Linked DNA regions of Homo sapiens. The protein of the gene in region 1 interacts with the protein of each later gene in a pairwise test. Each region holds a gene or a part of one and is shown on either strand. Other genes may lie near its edges.

Region 1 (11,368 bases):
CTAAAGTTGGGAAGCTTTTAAATTCCTACCACATTGTTACCACACTTTTAAAAGGAGTCACAGCTACATGCAACTGGAACACAAAAAGCAATTTCTGAATCATTGATTTCAAGGTAAACCAAGTAGCTATGACCCTCATGCAAAGCATTCACATACAAACTTACTATAGGCCAAGGCAAAGAAATGACATAATCATGAAAAATATAAACATCCCAGTCAGACAGGCATTTTCATTACTCTAATGCGTTCGTCTTAAACCTTAAAGAAACCCCAAATTTTGGTGCTGAAAGGGATCATGAAAATAGTTTCATCCAAATTCATTTGTGACAGGTGGTAGAGGCAGGAAGCTCAAGGTTCCTGTCTGTGCCTAAAGCTTTTTCTACTCTCACTCTGCAAATGAATTAGGCACATTAACAGAAGTAGAAAACCTAGAACATGGTTCACTATTCTCTAGGACTGTACTTTGTATTTCATTGAAGTTCAAAACAGAAAGAAAAAAAAAAGCAGCTTTTCAATTAACAATACCCTAGTCTAAATTTTCTTCAAATTCAGTGTGTCTTTAAAAGGATTTGTAATCCTCAACTACCACCATAAATTGATCAGAAGTTCAAAAACTCAATGCCTTCCTCAATCTCAAAAAATAACGCTGCATTTACCAATTATGGTTGGGGGCAAGGGGCTGTATCCACATAAACACATAGTTCTTTGCAAAGTATGCAGGAAACACAATCCCTTTAAACTAGTTTCGATGCCCAAACACAGTGCTTTTAAACCAGTTTCAATTACCAAACAACTGGTTTTTCAGGGTAGCTAGTATTTCCTTACTTTCAGAAATAGACTGCTAATTTCAAAATAATAACCCGCTTCTCCTTTGCCTCAGGTAAAAAGATCCCCAAGGTGGACAAGTGTTTACTAAGCTCAGGTATCAAGGAACCCTTCAAAACACCATCCCAGTCTTGCGGGGTGAGGGGGAGAAAAAAAAAAACACCTTCCAAATCCATATTACACAGCTTTAACTACAGTAAGCATCATAGAAGCCAAATCATGATCTGATAATTCCCTTATTAGACTAAAAGTTACATTCCATACAATTAAAGCTCTTTGAGAAAATCTATGATTTCAAAACATAAAAAGCATCTAATGAAAAACATATACTTAAAGCAACTGGGTAAAATCTGTGGCCCATACTAAAAGCCAGAAGCTCCACCCCCATACCTGTGATCTAGCTCTTGCTTTTCCGGATCAAGTGCTTACACTGCTTCTTATCCAGGTTCATTTCACCCCATCTATAGGTAGAATGTGGGTACTGATAAAAGCTGTTTCTGATTTCATTTCCTACTTCCCAGATGTTTGCTCTGTAGTTTTTCTTCTTTTTCCTTCAGCTATTTATGAATACACTCTAATTTAGAACAAATTCAGTATGTCTTATTTTAAGCTGGGCAAGGCACACAATAAATGATAGCTACAAAGATAATTTCAAGATATTTACTCAGCGTATAAATAAGTTTGCCTACCTAGGCAAGATTTGGACAGGCTGCCGTGATCTTGCTTTAGAATAAAAGTGCTTAAAAACATAACTGGGAGCCTGCTGCTGCTGCTGCTGCTGTTACTGCTGAAACTACGGGCTATTGTGCTTGTCATAAAAGGGCTTGTGCTTAGAAATGAAAAAATCAAACATCCTCTGGGGAGATGTCCCTAACACAATCCCTGGTATGAATCATGCAGATACTTTAACTGCATCTCTTCCCAAAATGGATCAATGGAATCTTTTAGGAAGAATCAATGTGATTTATACCCAAAACTTAAGAAAGACTGCATTTTTCTCATGAATAATACTCTCTTATAACTCTGAATCAAGCAGTGAAATTCAATCAAGCGGTAAACATCTTTTAACTGGAAATATTGTCTAAACAGAATGACAAAACTAACAGAACTCTGAATTCTTTAAATAAGTCCAAACATGAAACAAGCATTCTTAAATGATGTAACTAAATACAGTAACCAAGTTGTCTCTTGAAATTCAACTTTGGGAATGCCAAAAATAATAGGCCACCTCTCAATATCCGCAAAAATATCGGTATGTGTAGGTTTTCTAGGAAAGCAATAAAAAGCAACAGTTTGGGAGATCTTTTTTCTTCAATTACTAATTGTAACACTAGAAAAATTACAACCTAGGCTGCACACAAACGCGACTCAAATGGGCAGTTTACTAAATGTCTGTCATAAGAAAGCCATCTAGTGTTAACGTTTAGAATGGAGACTGCAGACAAAAGAGGCAAAGAAAAGAAAAATCTGTGCGACTATTTTGAACTTACTGGGCAAAGACATGAGAATCACCAAGATTCTTTGAGGGTTTTTTTCCTTGTTTTTTTTAAAAAAAAGCCATCCTTGTCAAAACCCAGTCTCAATCTAACCAAAATCCAAAATGTCTACAATTTTGTTTTGACCAAAATCATGTTTTGGTGAGCACAATTCCGTAACCAATGCACTTGATTTTTTCCAATACTCAGGCCAGAGTCATCTTGGGCTGAATTAATTTAACTCAAGCAGGTTAATGATGACAAATATCTCCCACAGGGGTAATGCCAAGTTGTTCTCTCTTTCCGAGAAGCCTCGGCTCTCTCTTGCAGATGATGAGCCGAAATTGATTCTTTGGGTTTGCGGCACGGCTGAAAATTAATCTGTAGGTGTTCCCAGGGATATTCCCAGGACGTGGGCAAACTACCCTCACTGACACGGGAAGACCCGGAGAGGCCCAGGAGCTGGCAAAGTGGGAAGAAAGGTCGCGGTGAGTGAGAAGAGCGCTCGCCGGAGGCTCCCGGTCTTACAAAGAGGGATCCGTCCCGGTGAGGGCGCGCGCTCCGGGCGCACCCCCTCTAGAAGGGGAATTAGCCCCGCAGCAAGTTCGGCGTCAGCTGGCCAGGCGCGCCGGGGAAGCTGCGTCGGGCAACCGCGAGCCCTTCCAGAGAGCGTTAGTCAGAGCGAAGTTCTGGGCACCTGGAGAAGACCCTCCTCAGTGCCTGTGTCGCCGAGACGGGAATAACCTTTCAGCCGATCGATAACTTGGAGAGAACAGGCGGCGGCGGCTCCTCTTCCAGCCGGGGATCGGGAGCGCGGGCGCATCTGCGTCTACAAGCCGGACCCTGCGCCGCGACCCTCGCACCCCCGCGCCCCTCGCACCCCTCGCCGCCGTCAGCCCCCCAAAGCGCCCCGAAGGGCATCCCCTTCCCCTTCGGGACAGTCCCCGCCTGGCCGCAGGCATCCCGAACCGACCCTCGCCACGCTGCCCGTCGGATTCCCCGACACGAACCTTCGCAACGCCGTCCGCCGGAACCTGCTACAGCCTGTGCGCGCCGGGCGGCGCGTACCCGGGCTGCCGCCTCGCCGCCCGCCGCTGCCCGGGGCTGCCCATCGGCCCGGACTCTCCCCGCGCCGGGCTCCGGCGGAGGCGGCCCGGACCCGCTGGCTGCGGCTGGAGCTCTCGGCCTGCGCTCGGGCGGCCGGCGGGGGCGCGGTGCTCCTCCTCCGTCCTCCTCCTCCTCTCGCTCCGCCAGCTCCTCCCGGGCTCCCAGTCTGCCGCGCCGGCTCCCGATGCCACCGCCCGCCCGCCCAGCGGCACCGCCCCCCGCCCGCTCTGCGGGCTCCCATTGGTCGCTGCCTGCAGGCCCCCTCGGCCCCGCCCCACGATTGGGCGCGGACGCCGTCAGTCTCACCGTCCGCCCGGCTCCGGGCGCAGCCGGTGCGCTGTTCCCAGGCCCCGCGGCGCGCGGGAGCTGCGCGTCCAGGAGGGGCCCGGACGCCCTTCTTGGGGAGGGGGCTGCGGGGCGCATCATGAGCGGCGCTGGGCGAGCTCGAGGGCCGGGCAGCCTACCTGGACCCCGGCTTCTAGAGAGCCGTCGCCGTCCTTGTCGAGACTCGCTTTCGCCCCTCTGAGGAATAAGTTAAAAACCGCGAGTCTGGTTCTGAGCCGCCCCCTGGCGCAGGCGCGACCCCACCCGGCCCTCCCGTCTCCCAACTTGGGACAGACGCGGCGGCCGGGCGGTCGGATCCGTGAGCCTCGGCCGCTGGGGCTACATACACAGCCCAGGACGCCACAGAATCGCCGAGGCCCCGCGAACGCCCAAACGGCCGCAAGTCGAAGTGATCCCATCTGAAGAAGACAGCGCGAGGAAGCGAGACCCTGCTGTGTGCCGGCCCCCGGAGGGCGCCCCGGGCCCTGTGGGTCGGAGGGTGGGGAAGCACAGAGAAACACGCAGGCAGTAAAACGTTAGGAGGACAGGGGGTGCCAGCGTGCAGGAAATGCTGCTAAGAGACCTTTAGGAGCCAAGGGGAAAACGGAGAGATTGGCAGTTCCAGGCACCCACATCCCAGCGCGGTCCGCTCACCCCTTCCTCCCTGCCCTCCAGGCAGCGCTCAGCCCACGGTAGAAATGTCTTGCATCTTTTTTCCGACGAGGAAGAATTGAACTTTTTATACCCAACTTTTCTGCTTTCTTAGAAATGTTGACTCACCTGTGAGGAAGCATTATTTGAAACTATTATTGTAAATTGCTTGACATTTGAATTAGATGCTGAAAGATTAAAGGGTCTCAGAAGAATCTTTTAAGCTAGACTGGAATTGACTCTGCCTAAATGGACAGCAACAGTCATCTATACGCAGGAATAATAAAGCAGGTGGAGGCAGCCTCTAACTTACCTTCCAGCCACACCGTAGAATTTCCTGAGCAGGCTTTTTTGTCAGAGTTTTGAGCTGGGTTCCCTGAGACTGGATTGGGGCTTTCAGTTTCTCCCCTTCTAGAGTCAGACTTCTTCCTGAAGAAAAAGTGTTATCTCTACTTCCCTATCACAAACACTTCCTAGAACACAGCCCTGTTAAAAGGTAAATAGAGGCGGTCCTTCCCACACTATATTTCTCTGTGATCTGAAGCATGTACACATTATACAATCTTTCGTATCTTTTTAAATTATAGGTATAATCTGTGGGATTAGATATAACTAAACAGGTCAAGAAGCAATCCTGTGACATAATACAATTCCTGAGCACTCCAGGTTTTGATGAGTTTCCCAATTGTCACCCCATTATCAGCATTTACAAGATTGTCATGTATTCATTTAACAAACATTTATGAAGCCGGGCGCGGTGGCTCAAGCCTGTAATCCCAGCACTTTGGGAGGCTGAGGCGGGAGGATCACAAGGTCAGGAGATCAGGATCTTCCTGGCTAACACGGTGAAACCCAGTCTCTACTAAAAATACAAAAAATTAGCCGGGCGTGGTGGCAGGCGCCTGTGGTGGCAGGCACCTGTAGTCCCAGCTACTCGGGTGGCTGAGGCAAGAGGATGGTGTGAACCCGGGATGTGGAGCTTGCAGTGAGCCGGGATCATGCCACTGCACGCCAGCCTGGGTGACAGAGTGAGACTCCGTCTCAAAAAAAAAAAAAAAAAAACAGATTTATGGAGATCCTCTGATGTTCCAGACCATACTAGGTGCTGGGAATATAAAATGCACAGGACATAAGGCTCGGCTTTTCAAGAGCTCACCAACTCACAGGTGTATCCTCATATGTTGTAGATACTCTACAAGAGGTATCAATGTTATCTCCTGTGTACTCAACAAAACCCTGCAGGAGGAGCAGCCGTGAAGGAACTTTTCCTGGGAGTGCCTAGGGAGGACATGATCACATTTCACCTTATTGCGTGTTTCATTGTCTATAAGGGCCTTGAGGAGAAGAACCACATCTCCTCCAGCATTTTGATCCCTAAGGCACAAATCCACTACAATCCGGAGCAGATCCTTGGTCAGTGGGTTGTCATTGAGGTGGGTCTTAACTGCTGCAGCTACAAATGTACACTGTCTAATAGATGAAGAGGAACCCATCCCTTTGATGTGTTCCTTAATATCCAGTACATAATGATCATATATGGAAGGAAGTCTGACCAGACACTCTTCGATGACGGTGTTAGCCACAATTCTCACTCTCTCACCTTCCCATCCCACTTCTTGTGCTTTCCAAACTAAAATTGAAATATCCTAAGCCCCACTACCAAGGTTGGCAGTATTTTTTTTAATGCCTGTAATTGATTGTGCAGAGTAAATATTTGTGTACGTTTATGAAGGTCCGTGGGAGTTTCTTACTTTCCCAGAACTCCACGTCACATGAGGCTGGCCTTCATCGGAATGTTCCTGCTTTCAACAAACAGGTCCTGAGTGAGCCCCTTTGCTGTGCAGAACAATGGTGATACATACAGGCGAGAGCAAAACCCACGAGGTGTCCACCTCACGGCCGACCACAAGAGATCCTCAAGAGACACATCTCAGGAATGATTCTGAACCTTCTTCACCAAATAAAATATTCCAGAAATAGTATTAGATTTAATGTGTGTGTCCCTCCTTGCTGGTCTTCCTAGCAGCAGCCTTCTTGTTTCTTGCCTTTTTAGGCAAACAGCCTGAAACTTAGCACAGACGGTGGAATTGCAGCACCTATGAAGATATCACTGCATCCTTTTTGCCTCAGGACATCTTACTGAAAATCATTCTATGTTAAAGCTATACATTTTGCTGAAATTTTGAAGACAAACATCAATGGTGAATTATAAACTTGTATTTGCCTAAAGGCTAGTGTGAACTTATCACTTTCGCCTTCCCCCAGGCCAAGATTTTCCCTCCCCTTGTTGCCCAAGCCTCACTTTCTATCCCTCAAAATTCTTCTTTCTCCTGTGAATTGCATCGTGTTCTAGGGGTTCCCAAAGAAACAAACTAAAGGGATTAATTCTTTTTTTTTTTTCTTTTTTCTTTTTTTGGCAGGGGATGGAGTCGCTTTGTCACCGAGGCTGGAGTGTGGTGGCATGATCTTGCCTCACTACAACCTCCGCCTCCCAGGTGCCAGTGATTCTCCTGCCTCAGCCTCCCAAGTAGCTGGGATTACAGGCACGCACCATCAAGCCCTGATAATTTTTCTATTTTTAGTAGACATGGGGTTTCAACACGTTGGCCAGGCTGGTCTGGAACTCCTGACCTCAAGTGATCCACCCATCTCGGCCTCCCAAAGTGCTGGGATTACAGGCGTGAGCCACCGCGCCCGGCCTAATTCTTTTTACAGTTTTCTTCCAGCACATCCACGCCTGAAATAATTCCAACATCAGTCTTACCTATTTTTCTCTAAGTGTAAAGAGAGCTGGAGTTCAAAGACATACCAACTGTCTACCCTGTTCCAAGGTTTTGCACTTCTTGGCTGACCTTGCCTGGTACTTCTAGCTATTTACGTTTGAATTTAGCAAAACGGGAGTTTTATTTTCTTGACACACTGCAGCAAGATTCTACCTACAGATGAAATGTGTACACTGTAATAAACCTGAATACCTAAGTTAAATAAGGGTTTACACTCCTATCCTTATTTCCTCCTTCCGTTTTCTATTACTAACCATCTTTTAATAAGTATTTCTTTTATGTCAAATGAAGATGTATAATTTGCAACAAATAGGCGTTGAACGCATATTACATTCAGGGTATTATATTGGACTCTAAGGACCCAAAGGGCAATATTTATTAGAGTATATGAATTTTATGATGAGGAGAAGAACTTGAGAGCAGGTGCTCGTGATCACCAATGAGTGGCGCCCACAGAGAGAGCAGGAGAGCCAGCCATCTGGCTTGGGCCAACCAGCAAAGGCCTGACCAAGGATGTGAAACTGGCCAGGCGAGAAGGAGAGAAGAGAGCACTCTACCCCTGGCAAGAGGAAGCACTGTGGGCGAAGACACAGGAGCTGCCTGTGTCAGGCATGTTTGAGAAACAGCGGTGCCCTTTGGCCAAGCACAGGCTTATTCACTTGTGTAACAAACACTTACATGGCACTTCATCCATGTCAGGTTCTGTTTTCCTCTTAGAAGGGAAGTCCTCACAGACAGACAAGCACATGGGTGCTGCTTCAACTTTTCTTTTCTTTCTTTTTTTTTTTTTTTTAAAGGAAACCTCTTACAACAGAAACATGTTTGAATATGGTCTTGTGAGGTAAATTAAGAAATACAAAGTTCTGCTGCAATTTTAAAAGAAATGGTTCAGCTGCAGCTCAGAAAGCTGGGTTACTGGCTTTAGTGTACTACCAGTCATGATAAAAAACAAAGCACATGTTTATCTTAAAATGAAAACCACTAGAATAACATAAAACCAATAGGACAACATAAATGATGTGCTAAGTACCCTATACTGTCCATAATAGCCTTAGAAGAAACCCATCTAATATAAAAGTCTCAGTTCTGTGGATATCTACGGAGGCCTACTCTGTGTTCAGTTCTGCTCTGGGGGATGCGGATTATTACAGATAAATAATGAGACGATCCTCAAGGAAATAAAATACTACCTAGCTGGGAGTTTCACAGAGGAAGCAATTTTCAGATTACTGCAAAGACAACACATTTAAAATGCCAACTTGAATTTAATGTTGTATAGATGTGTGACATGGAGATCTGGAATGGCCAATCCTGGATTGCGTGATTAAGGATCACTGACAAATATCCTTCAGAAGCGAAAAGTTTCTTGTGTTCTTAATCGCATGTTTCAGAAATTTAAAATCCAATGTTTGTCTTTGCTGCAATGTGTCCAATCTAATGTATCTCCAAGAATCTTCTAAGACAGGTGGGTTATTTCTTTTCTGATGATTCAAACTCTTGGCCGTAGCTATTTTACATTTTATACCCCTTGTTATCTCTTTCACTTTCTCTAGTCTCAGACCCACAGGTTAACAACTTGTACTAACTTTATCACTATGAGAGGTGTCTTCTGCCTCTTGCCTTACTTGGAAGGAAGGAGAGGGGAAGGAAGGAAAGGAAGGAAAGAAAAGAAAGAAAGAAGGAGGAAAGGAGGAAGAGATGGGGGAGAGAGAGAGGGAGGGAGGAAGGAGGGAGGAAGGAAGGAGGGAGGGAGGACAGAAGGGAGGGAAGGAAAAAGAAAAGAGAGGAAAGGAAGGAGAAGAGGAGGGAAGGAGAGGGAGAGAAGGAGAGAGGGAGGGAAGAAGAGAGGGAGGGAGGAAGGAAAACAGCTGAAGACACAGTAGGTCATCAGTGTTTGCCACTTGCTGCTGTCCTTCAAGGAGGAGACTGGAACTTTATATCCAGCACCTCACACAGAACCTGGCAAAAGACGTGGTCTTGATCGATATCTGATGAATGAATAGGGAGTGGGTGGATGGATTGCACTGAGAGAAAGTACTGTATTGATCTTTCTCTGTTCTTCCATAGCAGATTTAAAGTTTATGTCTTGATCTTCCAAATTTTATTTCTACTTGGGACAGACAGGATCCTTTAACGAGTGTTTTTGGTTCTACTTTTATGAAATAACAATAATAATGACATGTTAGTTGAATTGACCTATAGAGCATCTGCTATTCTACACCACTAGATGGCGTTTATCAATAGTAATGCTCAAAAGCACCACACATACTCTGCCGAGTAATAAATCTAAAGAAATCAGTACAGAAAAGGCATATACAGCATACACATATATGTATGTAGATTTACATTTTACATTTGATTTCTTTTTAATATTGGTTATGTATCTAGGGCTGCCTATAATTTGGCAAACCACTTCCTTTCCTAATTTTAACAGTCTTATGTAAGAACAGTTTAGGTTCTTAATTAAACTCTAAGCAGCCTCAATGTGTAAGACATTTCACAGAACCTGGTGACTACTTCCAGGTCTTTCTGCAGTGCTGATGGAAAAACACACCCCCTGGGAAAAAATAATCTAGAAAAAGTTGAAAGCAATATGGAGAAAATAAAAAAAAGCAGATAGACTGTTCTGCCTGCCTTCATCATTCGTTCATTCATTTATTCATTTAACAACTAGGGACTGGACACCCAGTATTAAATACTTTGGAGGATGTGTTTGCTGTCTCATAAAGAAAAACTGTCAGAACACTGACAGGAAAATGCTTATGATATTTAAATCCTATAAGGGGACAGATTTTTGTTTTTAAAAAATTAAGAGTTATAAGGGAGAAATAGAGATACATTTGAAATGCTCTATCAAGACTATGTAGTTTCTGCTTTCCAGGTCCCAGGTGGATTAGCAAGGCCACATTTCCTCGTTCTAACATCTGGTTGTCTGCGAAATAGCTGCACTTGAGATTTCCTGGGGAGAGACCTAAGTGGGAAGGCAATTGAGGGAGAGAGATGGGAAGGAAGGGGAGCAAAGGAGCAGTGTGAGGAGGCAATCAGAGAGAAACATGAGAAGAGTGGCCAAGGGTTAGAAAGGTAAATCCTACCCACAAAATCTGAAAATTAAATCTTTGAAACTGCTTTGATGTGGAAAGAGCAAGCTCATACTCTATTTTAAGATTGTAGGAGTAAGGAGAAAAGGACCATAAAAGGAAACTGAAACACCTTAGCTCTCCTAATTCCAGTGTTTCCAGAAATTGTAAAATTAAGTGTCAACATTGCAAAAATGAACGCTGACTACTATGAAATTGTACTTATTTCCAGAAATGCAACAAATGACTAAGTATAGAGCCTGTGGCAGACACCATTTTCATCCTAAGTAAAGAGCCTGTGGCAGACACCATTTTCATCCTAAGTAAAGAGCCTGTGGCAGGCACCATTTTCATCCTAAGAGCTTTCGGCAGACACCATTTTCATCCACCTACAAAACACAGCAACAACAAAGGCCATCAGCATGTGACACTATTGCCTACAACTAAATGACCTAAAGCCAAATCTATCAAATTTTCCCGAAGGCTGGCAACCCTTGCTAGCCATGACATTTGTGATACAGATGTCACTCTGCTAAATACTAGACCAAGAGAGTTTTCTCTTGGATTCTTCTCTTTCTCTGCCTTCCGTGATCCAACAAGAACGATTCTGGTTTCCTCCAACGATCTCTCACACCAGCGTAGCCATCCTCCTTAGGTGTTTTTGTCCTTGAGTATGGACAACTCTCCTAAATAAGCTCTTCGTTTTCTTCCCCCTGGCTTCTAACGCACAGCTTAGATCCCTCCCATGCGCAGTTCACAATAAGGCTCATGCTCCTATGAGAATATGATGCTGCCACCGATCTGACAGGAGGCAGAGCTCTGGCAGTAATGCCAGTGATGGGAAGCAGCTGTGAATACAGATGAAGCCAGCCAGCCACTCACCTCCTGCGGTGCCACTTGGTTCCTAACAGGCCACAGACCCGGGGCCGGGGACCCCTGTTCTAAACCACCGGACACACAGTCCTTTAAGCACATAGATTTCCAGTTCACAATTCTTCTGGGCTTCCCATTGCATACTGAATAACATCAAAGTTCTCCTCACCTTCGTAACATTTACACATTCCATAGACTGCCTCCAACCTTAGTTTCCTGGATGGAACTCTCAGCAGTATTGACCACTGCAGAA
Region 2 (10,699 bases), on another chromosome or scaffold:
ATTAGAAGACATTTATACTCTTTTTTCATGGACACTTTGAAATGTGTTTCTGTATAAAGCCTGTATTCTCAAACACAGTTACACTTGTGCACCCTCTATCCCAATAGGCAGACTGGGTTTCTAGCCCATGGACTTCACATAAGCTCAGAATCCAAGTGAACACTAGCCAGACACTCTGCTCTGCCCTTGTTCCCTAGGGGACACTTCCCTCTGTTTCTCTTTCCTTGGCTCCCATTCACTCTTCCAGAATCCCAAGACCCAGGGCCCAGGCAAATCAGTTACTAAGAAGAAAATTGCTGTGCCTCCCAAAATTGTTTTGAGCTTTCCATGTTGCTGCCAACCATACCTTCCTTCCCTGGGCTGTGCTACCTGGGTCCTTTTCAGAAGTGAGCTTTGCTGCTACAGGGGAAGGTGGCCTCTGTGGAGCCCCAGCATATGGGGGCCTGGATTCATTTCCTGCCCTTCCTCAGTTTAATCCTTCTAGTTTCCCACAATATAAAACTGTACTTCACTGTCAGGAAGAAATCACAGAATCATATGATTCTGCTTTTACCATGCCCCTGAGCAATGTCTGTGCTAGGGAAACTTCCCGTCCCATATCCTGCCTCAGCCCGCCAAGGTAGCCATCCCATGAACACACTGTGTCCTGGTGCTCTCTGCCACTGGAAGGGCAGAGTAGCCAGGGTGTGGCCCTGCCATCTTCCCAGCAGGGCCACTCCCGGCACTCCATGCTTAGTCACTGCCTGCAGAGGTCTGTGCTGAGGCCTTATCATTCATTCTTAGCTCTTAATTGTTCATTTTGAGCTGAAATGCTGCATTTTAATTTTAACCAAAACATGTCTCCTATCCTGGTTTTTGTAGCCTTCCTCCACATCCTTTCTAAACAAGATTTTAAAGACATGTAGGTGTTTGTTCATCTGTAACTCTAAAAGATCCTTTTTAAATTCAGTCCTAAGAAAGAGGAGTGCTTGTCCCCTAAGAGTGTTTAATGGCAAGGCAGCCCTGTCTGAAGGACACTTCCTGCCTAAGGGAGAGTGGTATTTGCAGACTAGAATTCTAGTGCTGCTGAAGATGAATCAATGGGAAATACTACTCCTGTAATTCCTACCTCCCTGCAACCAACTACAACCAAGCTCTCTGCATCTACTCCCAAGTATGGGGTTCAAGAGAGTAATGGGTTTCATATTTCTTATCACCACAGTAAGTTCCTACTAGGCAAAATGAGAGGGCAGTGTTTCCTTTTTGGTACTTATTACTGCTAAGTATTTCCCAGCACATGAAACCTTATTTTTTCCCAAAGCCAGAACCAGATGAGTAAAGGAGTAAGAACCTTGCCTGAACATCCTTCCTTCCCACCCATCGCTGTGTGTTAGTTCCCAACATCGAATGTGTACAACTTAAGTTGGTCCTTTACACTCAGGCTTTCACTATTTCCTTTATAATGAGGATGATTATTTTCAAGGCCCTCAGCATATTTGTATAGTTGCTTGCCTGATATAAATGCAATATTAATGCCTTTAAAGTATGAATCTATGCCAAAGATCACTTGTTGTTTTACTAAAGAAAGATTACTTAGAGGAAATAAGAAAAATCATGTTTGCTCTCCCGGTTCTTCCAGTGGTTTGAGACACTGGTTTACACTTTATGCCGGATGTGCTTTTCTCCAATATCAGTGCTCGAGACACAGTGAAGCAAATTAAAAAAAAAAAAAAAAAAAATCCCTGAATGATGATTAGAGACATCACCGCTAAAAAACTACATTTATAAGCTAGGATTTGTTATATGCAAATATTTTCTGCCTCTTCTTTTGTTCTGTTTAAAACAATAAAATGCATTTGTATAAAAAATGCTTTAAATGATGGATATGTTACTTTAGCAAGAACTTTTAGGTCAGGTTTCTCCTTTGTTTTGATGAATAGTCAATGAAACTAATCCTCAAGATCTGGAAACTAAAGATTTTTATTTAATCCAAATGTTGCACTGGAAGAAGAAATCAACAGTGGTATATTTACTTAACAAGGATGTGTGTAATACAAGACAACCCTGGGGATTACACACTTGAAGGAATGGAAGTGGCAAAGGTTAACAGGCAGAAAGCAGCTGGATGAAACAGTTTATTTTCATCTTAGAAGATTCTAGCTATCTGTGGAGACCACCACTGTTCCCCGAAAAGCTAAAGTTGTTAAGTTTGTAGGAGTACCACAGGTCCTTCCCCCTGCTGCAAGACAGAGACTTGCTCTGTTGCCCAGGCTGCAGTGCAGTGGTGCAATCTCAGCTCACTGCAACCTCTGCCTCCCGGGTTCAAGCAATTCTCCTGCCTCAGCCTCCCATGTAGCTGGGATTACAGGTGTGCGCCACCATGCCTGGCTAATTTTTGTATTTTTAGTAGAGATGGAGTTTCACCATGTTGGCCAGGCTGGTCTCGAACTCCTGACCTCAAGTGATCCGCCCACCTTGACCTCCCAAAGTGCTGGGATTACAGGTGTGATCCACCACGCCCGGCCACACAGGTCCATTTTTCATATTCCAAAGCCCAGTATAGAATAAATAGGGTTTTCAGGGATCCACCAGGGCTATAAAACAGAGTTAGCTTTTGGGGACATAGTCCTCTTCTTCCTTAAAGAAACACTGACTAAAATAGTAGGAGCAGGTTTTTAGAGTAGAGTTGGGACATCACTTTTTCCCTGATTTTCTAGATCTGAAAGGGGTAACATGTCATTAAAGGGTGATGATATTGATATTTAGTGTTGCCAACTGCTATTATCACTGCTTTATCTTGGAAAGTTGCCGACTATAAAGACAGATTCCAGCCTGCTTGAGTTAAGGGAAAGGCCAAGGCTGCTACTGAATTAGCAGTTTCTAAAACTGTCTTGTTTTTGCCATTTACCATATGTTCACTGGTGCTGCCTTCCTGCTGTAGTATAATCATTTTCTCAAATCAGTTGCCTCTCAGGACAAGATCAGCATTTTCCTAGGGTCCTTCTGTAGCACCACTTAAGGAATGAACCTATCACAGGAACTCCCTTTGAATAAAATGATGGTGACTCCCACACGCAGGAAAGAATCATTTACTTCATTTGCTCTTGATATACTCCCTTATGAATTTAGAACAAGTGATCCAGGATTAGCTGTAACTCTGTGCTTGAAAAATATTTTACTACTACTAAGTATTCAGAAATCTTTGTTATCAGTAGGTGGTGGTAGTGATAGGGAAGGGAGCTTTGATCACTAATCTCTCAGACTGTGGCCAGAATGGTGATGCTTAAGCCAAGTATGAATGGCTATTAACATACTGAGGTTAGGGAAGGAGTACTGAGAAGTGCTTTGCAGCAACACTCGCAGCTTGTGTGATGATGCAGAAGAAAATCTGATCATGTTCACCCTGCTTTGACAATGAGCCTTGCCCATTGGAGAATGTTCAATCAATAGTAGACCTAAAAAAAATCAACTTGTTGCTTTCATCTTTTTATTGATAGCACAGCCAGAGCTACCAAAATGATTTACTGGATTCTAGCAAATTAATAAATACAGTAATTTGATTGTAAAAGGAAACATTCTACTTGGACATTTTAGTAGAAATTGCTAGAGGGAAGGAGCTCCTGGCGTACATTCTACTTGGATAGAAGAGAAGATAGCACAGGAGGAGAACTGGACAGTCCAGGTATAGATTGTTGAGATTAGGGATTCAGCAGAAAGCAAAGCAAATGTTCTCATTGTTCTTTTGAGGTACGAACTCTGAAGAGTCAAGACATTAAAAATAAAAAGCAATTGAACCGGGTAGCCAAACTTAGGCAAAAGGAATAAATATTTGGCAACATTTTGACTTTAACTGCCAATCTGAGATTAGTTTCTTCAGAAATTTGGAAGCTGCAAAACGTTGCCTTTCTTATTCCATGAAAGGCAGGGCAGGCAAAGGTAAGAAAACTGCTGAGTGGGCTCCTTGTACCAGCACCAACCAGCAGCCCTTGACAGCATAGATGGGATGAGTGTAAGGGCTATCCTTAGCATAAGGGAAAGACGGTTATAAGCTGAGAAGATTGAAAGAAGAATGGAGCCACAAAGAGAATAGCATAAATAACAAGAAGGAAACATGAAGAACAAGCACTTAAGATATTAACTTTCAGTCTTTCTCCATTTCTTGATGTCTAATGAGGCAAAATAACTGGGCAAGGACCACCAAGATGAAGAAGTTAAATAAAATGTCACAATGAAATTGAGTGCAATAATACAACTGTTGACTGACTTTCCAAAACCACGGTGATCGGTAGAGTATCATCAATGTTACCGAGGATTTTGTTTCTGCCTCATTATAACTCACTTCCATGTATTTTGTCAGTATAGTACGTATATTTAAGCACTCCAGTGACAATTATGACAATAGTTTCTGGAAGAAATCTATGACTATAGCTTTGGGAAGCACACAATATGAAAAGGGAATTTCCCCTAAAGACAAGGAATGCAGACAAATTCAAACCCTTAAGAACAACAACAAAAAAGATTTAAAAAGACTGATGACTGTGAGGCAGGCACATTTTCCTCCTTTTGCTGAACTGGGGCATGAGGCATTTAGGTTAACCATGGCTTAACTGGTGTTGGGTAAGCTTTATATTATAAAACATGAAGATGGCAAAGGTTTCACTTAAGTTTTTCTTTTACTACTTTAATTTGCTTAAAAGCACAAATGCTTGTGCTTGCAGTAACTTCCTAAAAGCAGAAGTAATGTTCCCTTTTACTACCTTAATAAAGCATTTGCCCCTTTGATACAAATGATTTTTTTACTGTGCTAACAGCTGAACCAGTGGCACAAAATTGAGATGGTATTTACTGCAGCAAGGTCCCTGTAAATCAAATTCTAAGCTTTACATAAAAATCTTATTTATAAAAAATACAATACCAAGTACAGTGAGAATGGAGCATGGAGCAGCAGTGCTCCCTGCCAGGGCCATGTGGAAGTGGCTTTTGCTACAGTGCTTGCTTAATGGCACAAGTGAAAAGCTGAATAAGGCAAACACTTGAAGAGGCAGTTTTCTGTAAACTTCTGGGGGTGGGGGGAATTTCCTCTCGGGACAGATACTGGTTTGGGATGGCTAAGATCAGAAGGTGTGATATTTGGCTGCACCTGACACATCACAGATTTAAGATAGCTTCTGCTGGATGAGACCAGTTAACTCTTTTAGGAGAGAGGTTATCACTACAGCTTTCTGCCTTTACTGTTACAATGTGCAGCCGCCAGATGGTATCCTCCTATGGAAAAAAATCACCTCCAAAATCTTCCTAAGTGAAAAGATACAAAATAAGCTAAGTCACTAAAAGGTTTCCTTAGCTTAAAGCTCCTTAAGAATCCTACATTGATAACTAAGTAACTTTGTTAGCGGTGTGTAGCTAGACACAAATGCTTTAACTAGAATATGTATTCCCACTCACTTGGTACCTAATAGTGATACATCGTAATGACACTTGGAAAACAAACTGGTCCTGAGGAATTTTGGCCTCTTCTCATGTCCTCACTTGGAACTTTCCAGCTTTCGTGACGTATTTGACTCCTTTAAATGGCTTATATTTCTCCCCATACATGTCCAAACGGTTTACTTTTAAGCCTGTATCAAAAAGAATGAAAAAGAATAAATTATCATCATCCCAACCAATATAATGTTAGCAATGAGCGCTATATGGTAAATCTGACATTAACCAGTGTCCCTTCCACCATTTGGAAGAAATGTCTCTTCTATCATTTACAAATTATTGCACTTTGATGGTATGGTTTTGGTTAAGATTCCCACACAGGCAGGGAATGTCTGTGAAGTATAATTCTACTTTCTGTGAATATGAATAACTCTCTTTTTGGTGCTTAAATGAGGGCGGAGGTGAGGGGAAGCTGTTTGAAATAAGGTGCTCTGAAAAATCATTTGGTCGGTGCCTGTGAGACTGCCCCACCAAGCACAGTATAAAAGGCAAATGGGCTACTGCTCTTTCTAGAGAAGGAAACTTTTGTTACTCTTCTAAATGCCTAATAAATGAGCTTGCAAAACTCAATTACCCTTAACTACAAGTCAACCTTATCCTTACCTGAAATAGCAAGCTGCTGGATCTTAAACTGTATGTTGAGGCTCGGATTCTCTTCTGGTTTGGGGGCTCCAGACTGTAAATTTACCAGTCCTTTAAGACTTGGGAGCTTTTGTGGAGTAATTTTTCCCACATCCCATGTTAGTACCTTAAAAAGACAAAAAATGAAAAACAAATAGAACCATTTATTAAAGACAAACCCTCAAAAACAAAGTTCAAAGATATCATAAACTTCTGTACAAACTGAAGTGCAGTCTCTTGAAAACAAGAGATCTGGCATCTACAGTGAGTTTACCTCTGATTAATTCTGTGACTTTGAATGGGGAGTGAGAGCAGAGAATCTACATTTGTTGAGCATTTTCTTTTGTATTAGCACCGTGCTTAGCATTATTCATATGTTGTCTCATTGAGGGCTGTGAAGTAGCTTTTGTCTTCTATTTACAAATGAGGAAATTAAAGCTCAGAGGACATTAAGGCTCAGAGATCAAATGACTCGCTCAAGGTCACATAGTTAGTCAGAGGTAAGGCTGGGATTTGAACCTAAGGCCCTCTGATTTCAAATGTTCTCCATCATAACCATCTTCACTTTTCTCTGGGCCTGTTTCTTTTTCTTTTTTTTTTGAGACAGAGTTTCACTCTTGTTGCCTAGGATGGAGTGCAATGGTGCAATCTTGGCTCACCACAAACTCTGCCTCCCAGGTTCAAGCGATGCTCCTGCCTCAGCCTCCCAAGCAGCTGGGATACAGGCATGCGCCACCATGCCCAGCTAATTTTGTAGTTTTAGTAGAGATGGGGTTTCTCCATGTTGGTCAGGCTGGTCTCGAACTCCTGACCTCAGGTGATCCACCCACCTCGGCCTCCCAAAGTGCTGGGATTACAGGCGTAAGCCACTGCGCCCAGCCTCTGTTTATTTTTCTGTAAAATAATTAGATTGACTTAAGATGGTGTTTTTAAAACTTTTAGCTGTGAAACCCATTGTTCAAATGAAATCTTCGGTGTGAAGGCTCAACAGCAGATGAGAAAGAAAGCAAAGCTGTCATAGTTGAAGCTGTGGTAAAGGGCCAGGAATCTGAAGCTCCCTTTCTCAGCCCTGTGTGGTCTCCAGGAGGAGGTTCTTTGAATCCTTACAACTGTATTAAATAATCTTTAACATTCTATGATGTTATTCAAAAAACATGTCTTTTCATTTATCAGGTAGCTCAATGACTCTGCTATTGAAAACAATCATATTTACCAGCTAATCAGGAAGCTGAGAGAAAATCATCTGCTACAGTTTCTCTGAAAACCCTCTGTTACACAAAAATTTAAGTAGAGTGAGGAAGCAACTTTCCTAGCCCTGTGAAAGAGTATGAAATAATGCTTTTAAATTATAAAGGAAGAAAAAGGTCTTAGTGATCAATTTATATAGAAAACTTAGTAATTCATAGACCATCATAATATCTTCTTCAATCTACATAATGTTTTCTCTTTTTAAAAAAGCTTTTACTTCTTTCTTATTAGATAGCAGAGTCAGGCTCTGGATTAATAATGGATGAGTGAAGGCACACTCTGAAAAAGGACAGAATGACACATTTTTCTGTTCATCTACTCAGTAGCAGCTGCAGGATTCCTTCTGCAGCCAGTGGCAGAAGCACAGCACAGTATGCTCTCTAGGTTTTGATACGAACTTTAGTTTTAAACAAGGTGCCAAACCTTTCCCTCCATTCCTCCCCACAAATCACAAAATAGATTGCAGAAACACTTGCTCACTCTTGATTTGAAGTGGCTGTACCTTGGTGACTGGATCAAATGTATAGCTGCCTTGTGTGGGTGTCAGGTTCATGTTCAGCACAACTTTTGGCATGTGAACTGTCACTGTAATTCCTTCAATAGTTTTCCCCATATTCTGCTTTGGTCCAATTGTTATATCAAATCTGCCGCAAGAACTGTTCTCCTTAAAGCTGATACTATGTTTCACATACACTGGTATTGCCACTAGACTAAAAAGAGAAACAGAGAAAGATACAAAAGCACAAACACAATTAATGGTGTGGGGAGAGCTCCAGAGGTATCCTGAAAACCTCTGTCCAGAGTATCCTACCCTGCCTTTAACTCCACAATAAGGTACTACAGAGTTGGCTCTCTGTAGCCACAGTTCTGCATCCTTGAATTTGACCAGCTGAGGATTGAAAATATTATTTCACAAAATTGGCCAGGCGTGGTGGCTCATGCCTGTAATCCCAGCACTTTGGGAGGCCGAGACCAGGGTTGGGAGGGGATCACCTGAGGTCAGGAGTTTGAGACCAGCCTGGCCAACATGATGAAACCTCGTCTCTACAAAAATTAGCTAGGGCTGGGCGCGGTGGCTCACACCTGTAATCTCAGTACTTTGGGAGGCTGAGGTGAGGAGTTCAAGACCAGCCTGGCCAACATGGTGAAACCTCGTCTCTACTAAAAATACAAAAATTAGCTGGGTGTGGTGGCTCATGCCTGTAGTCCCAGCTATTTGGAAGCCTGAGGCAGGAGAATCGCTTGAACCTGGGAAGCGGAGATTGCAGTGAGCTGAGATCGTGCCACTGCACTCCAGCCTGGGCAAAGGAGCGAGACGCCATCTCAAAAAAAAAAAAAAAAAAAAAAAAAAAAAAAGTAAAAAATAACAATATAACTACAATAAAAATAAAAAGTCAACATGGTATAACAATTATTTACACAGTGTTTACAGTGTACTATCACAAGTAACTTGGAGATGATTTAAAGTATACAGGAGGATGTGCATAGGTTATATGCAAATACTACACCATTTTATGTAAGGGACTCGAGCATCTGCTGATTTTTGCAACCAGTCCTCCAAGGATACCAAGATGGCAGTACCTCTAGAACTGCAGATTCAGTATCTACACAAGGGGGAGCTGAGTACAGCATAATGTTCTTGTACCACTGTGCTGGGAACTGTATACAAATCAAGACAGAAATCTGAAGTTTAATAACAGTATAAACAATTGGGGTGGCTGGGTGCAGTGGCTCACACCTGTAATCCCAGCACTTTGGGAGGCCAAGGCAGGCAGATCACTGGAGGTCAGGAGTTTGAGACCAGCCTGGCCAACATGGTGAAATCCCCTCTCTAATAAAAAAAAAAAATAACAAAAAACAAAAATTAGCTGGGCGCGGTGGCAGGTGCCTGTAATCCCAGCTACTTGGGAGGCTGAGGCAGGAGAATCGCTTGAACCCAGGAGGTAGAGGTTGCAGTGAGCCAAGATCACACCATTGCACTCCAGCCTGGGTGACAATAGTGAAACTCCGTCTCAAAACAAACAAACAAAACAAAATAACATAAAACAAACAAACAAAAACAATTGGGGCAAATGGCCCTAGTTTAAAATGAATTATGATCCCACTGAAAAATAATGTAAAATATGTTTTATATAAATGAAAACAGTTCCTATGTGATAAGAGCCAAGAAACAGGCCAGGCACGGTGGCTCACGCCTGTAATCCCAGCACTTTGGGAGGCTGAGGTGGGCAGATCACCTGAGGTCTGGAGTTCGAGACCAGTCTGACCAACATGGAATAACCCCGCCTCTACTAAAAACACAAAATTAGCCGGGTGTGGTGGTGCATGCCTGTAATCCCAGCTACTTGGGAGGCCGAGGCAGGAGAATCACTTGAACCCTGGAGGTGGAGGTTGCAGTAAGCCGAGATTTCACCATTGCACTCCAGCCTGAGCAACAAGAGCCAAACTCCGGCTTAAAAAAAAAAAAAAAAAAAAAAAAGGAAAAGAAAAGAGCCGAGAAATAATTTCTCTGTTTTTGAGTTCTGTCATGATGTTACTCAAATAACTTTTGGTATTTTCAAGAAACAAACTACCTATAACTCCGATCCCCAATGCTAAATTTTTTTTTTTTTTGAGATGGAGTTTTACCCTGTTGGCCAGGCTGTAGTGCAGTGGTGTGATCTGTCACTGCAACCTCTGCCTTCCAGGTTCAAGTGATTCTCATGCCTCAGCCTCCTAAGTAGTTGAGATTATATAGGCACACGCTACCACGCCTGGCTAATTTTGTGTTTTTAGTAGAGACAGGGTTTCACCATGTTGACCAGACTGGTCTAGAACTCTTGACCCCAAGTGATCTGCCCACATTGGCCTCCCAAAGTGTTGGGATTACAGGAGTGAACCACTGCACCCGGCCCCTCAATGCTAAACAGTTCCTTAAAAACTCAACGCAGAGAAGACGTACTTGAAGCAGGTAAATTGGGGAATGTCCTCACGAACTACAGGTAGGTCTGTCTCCTTGTTGGCCACAAACTCTACAGACTATGGTAAGATTATGGCAATGGTTCATGGTTTTGCCCAGGTTATGCATGGTCCGTTTTGCTCTGCTTGCAAAGTACTCAGCTTTCAGAAGCAGAGCAAAATGGACCATGCATAACCTGAGCAAAGAACCAGTGCCATAATTTGACCATGCATAACCTTGCAAAGGACCGGTACCACAATTTTTGCCCAGGTTATGTATGGTTTGCTTGTTCTTGGCTATAGATTTTACTCTAGTCTCACTTAGTACCACTCTACACTCATACATTCAAAGTATACGGATTATTTTAGGTGCGTATTTTCACCCGTTCTCACTGGGTCTCCTGGTGAGCTATGGTTAAAGTGAGCAGTG

What was found.
Region 2: the proteins of SIPA1L2 (region 1) and AP3M1 interact in binary tests that used the Homo sapiens proteins (3 or more experiments, as listed by UniProt).

Annotation. Positions count from the first base shown.
Region 1 is NC_000001.11:232,626,559-232,637,926, forward strand, and holds the start of SIPA1L2 (signal-induced proliferation-associated 1-like protein 2), read right to left. Parts: upstream 3,576-11,368; 5' UTR 3,311-3,575; intron 1-3,310.
Region 2 is NC_000010.11:74,118,314-74,129,012, forward strand, and holds the end of AP3M1 (AP-3 complex subunit mu-1), read right to left. Parts: intron 8,043-10,699; coding exon 7,835-8,042; coding exon of another isoform or gene 7,813-7,834; intron 6,212-7,812; coding exon 6,067-6,211; intron 5,598-6,066; coding exon 5,497-5,597; 3' UTR 1,942-5,496; downstream 1-1,941. UniProt on the Homo sapiens protein: Part of the AP-3 complex, an adaptor-related complex which is not clathrin-associated. The complex is associated with the Golgi region as well as more peripheral structures.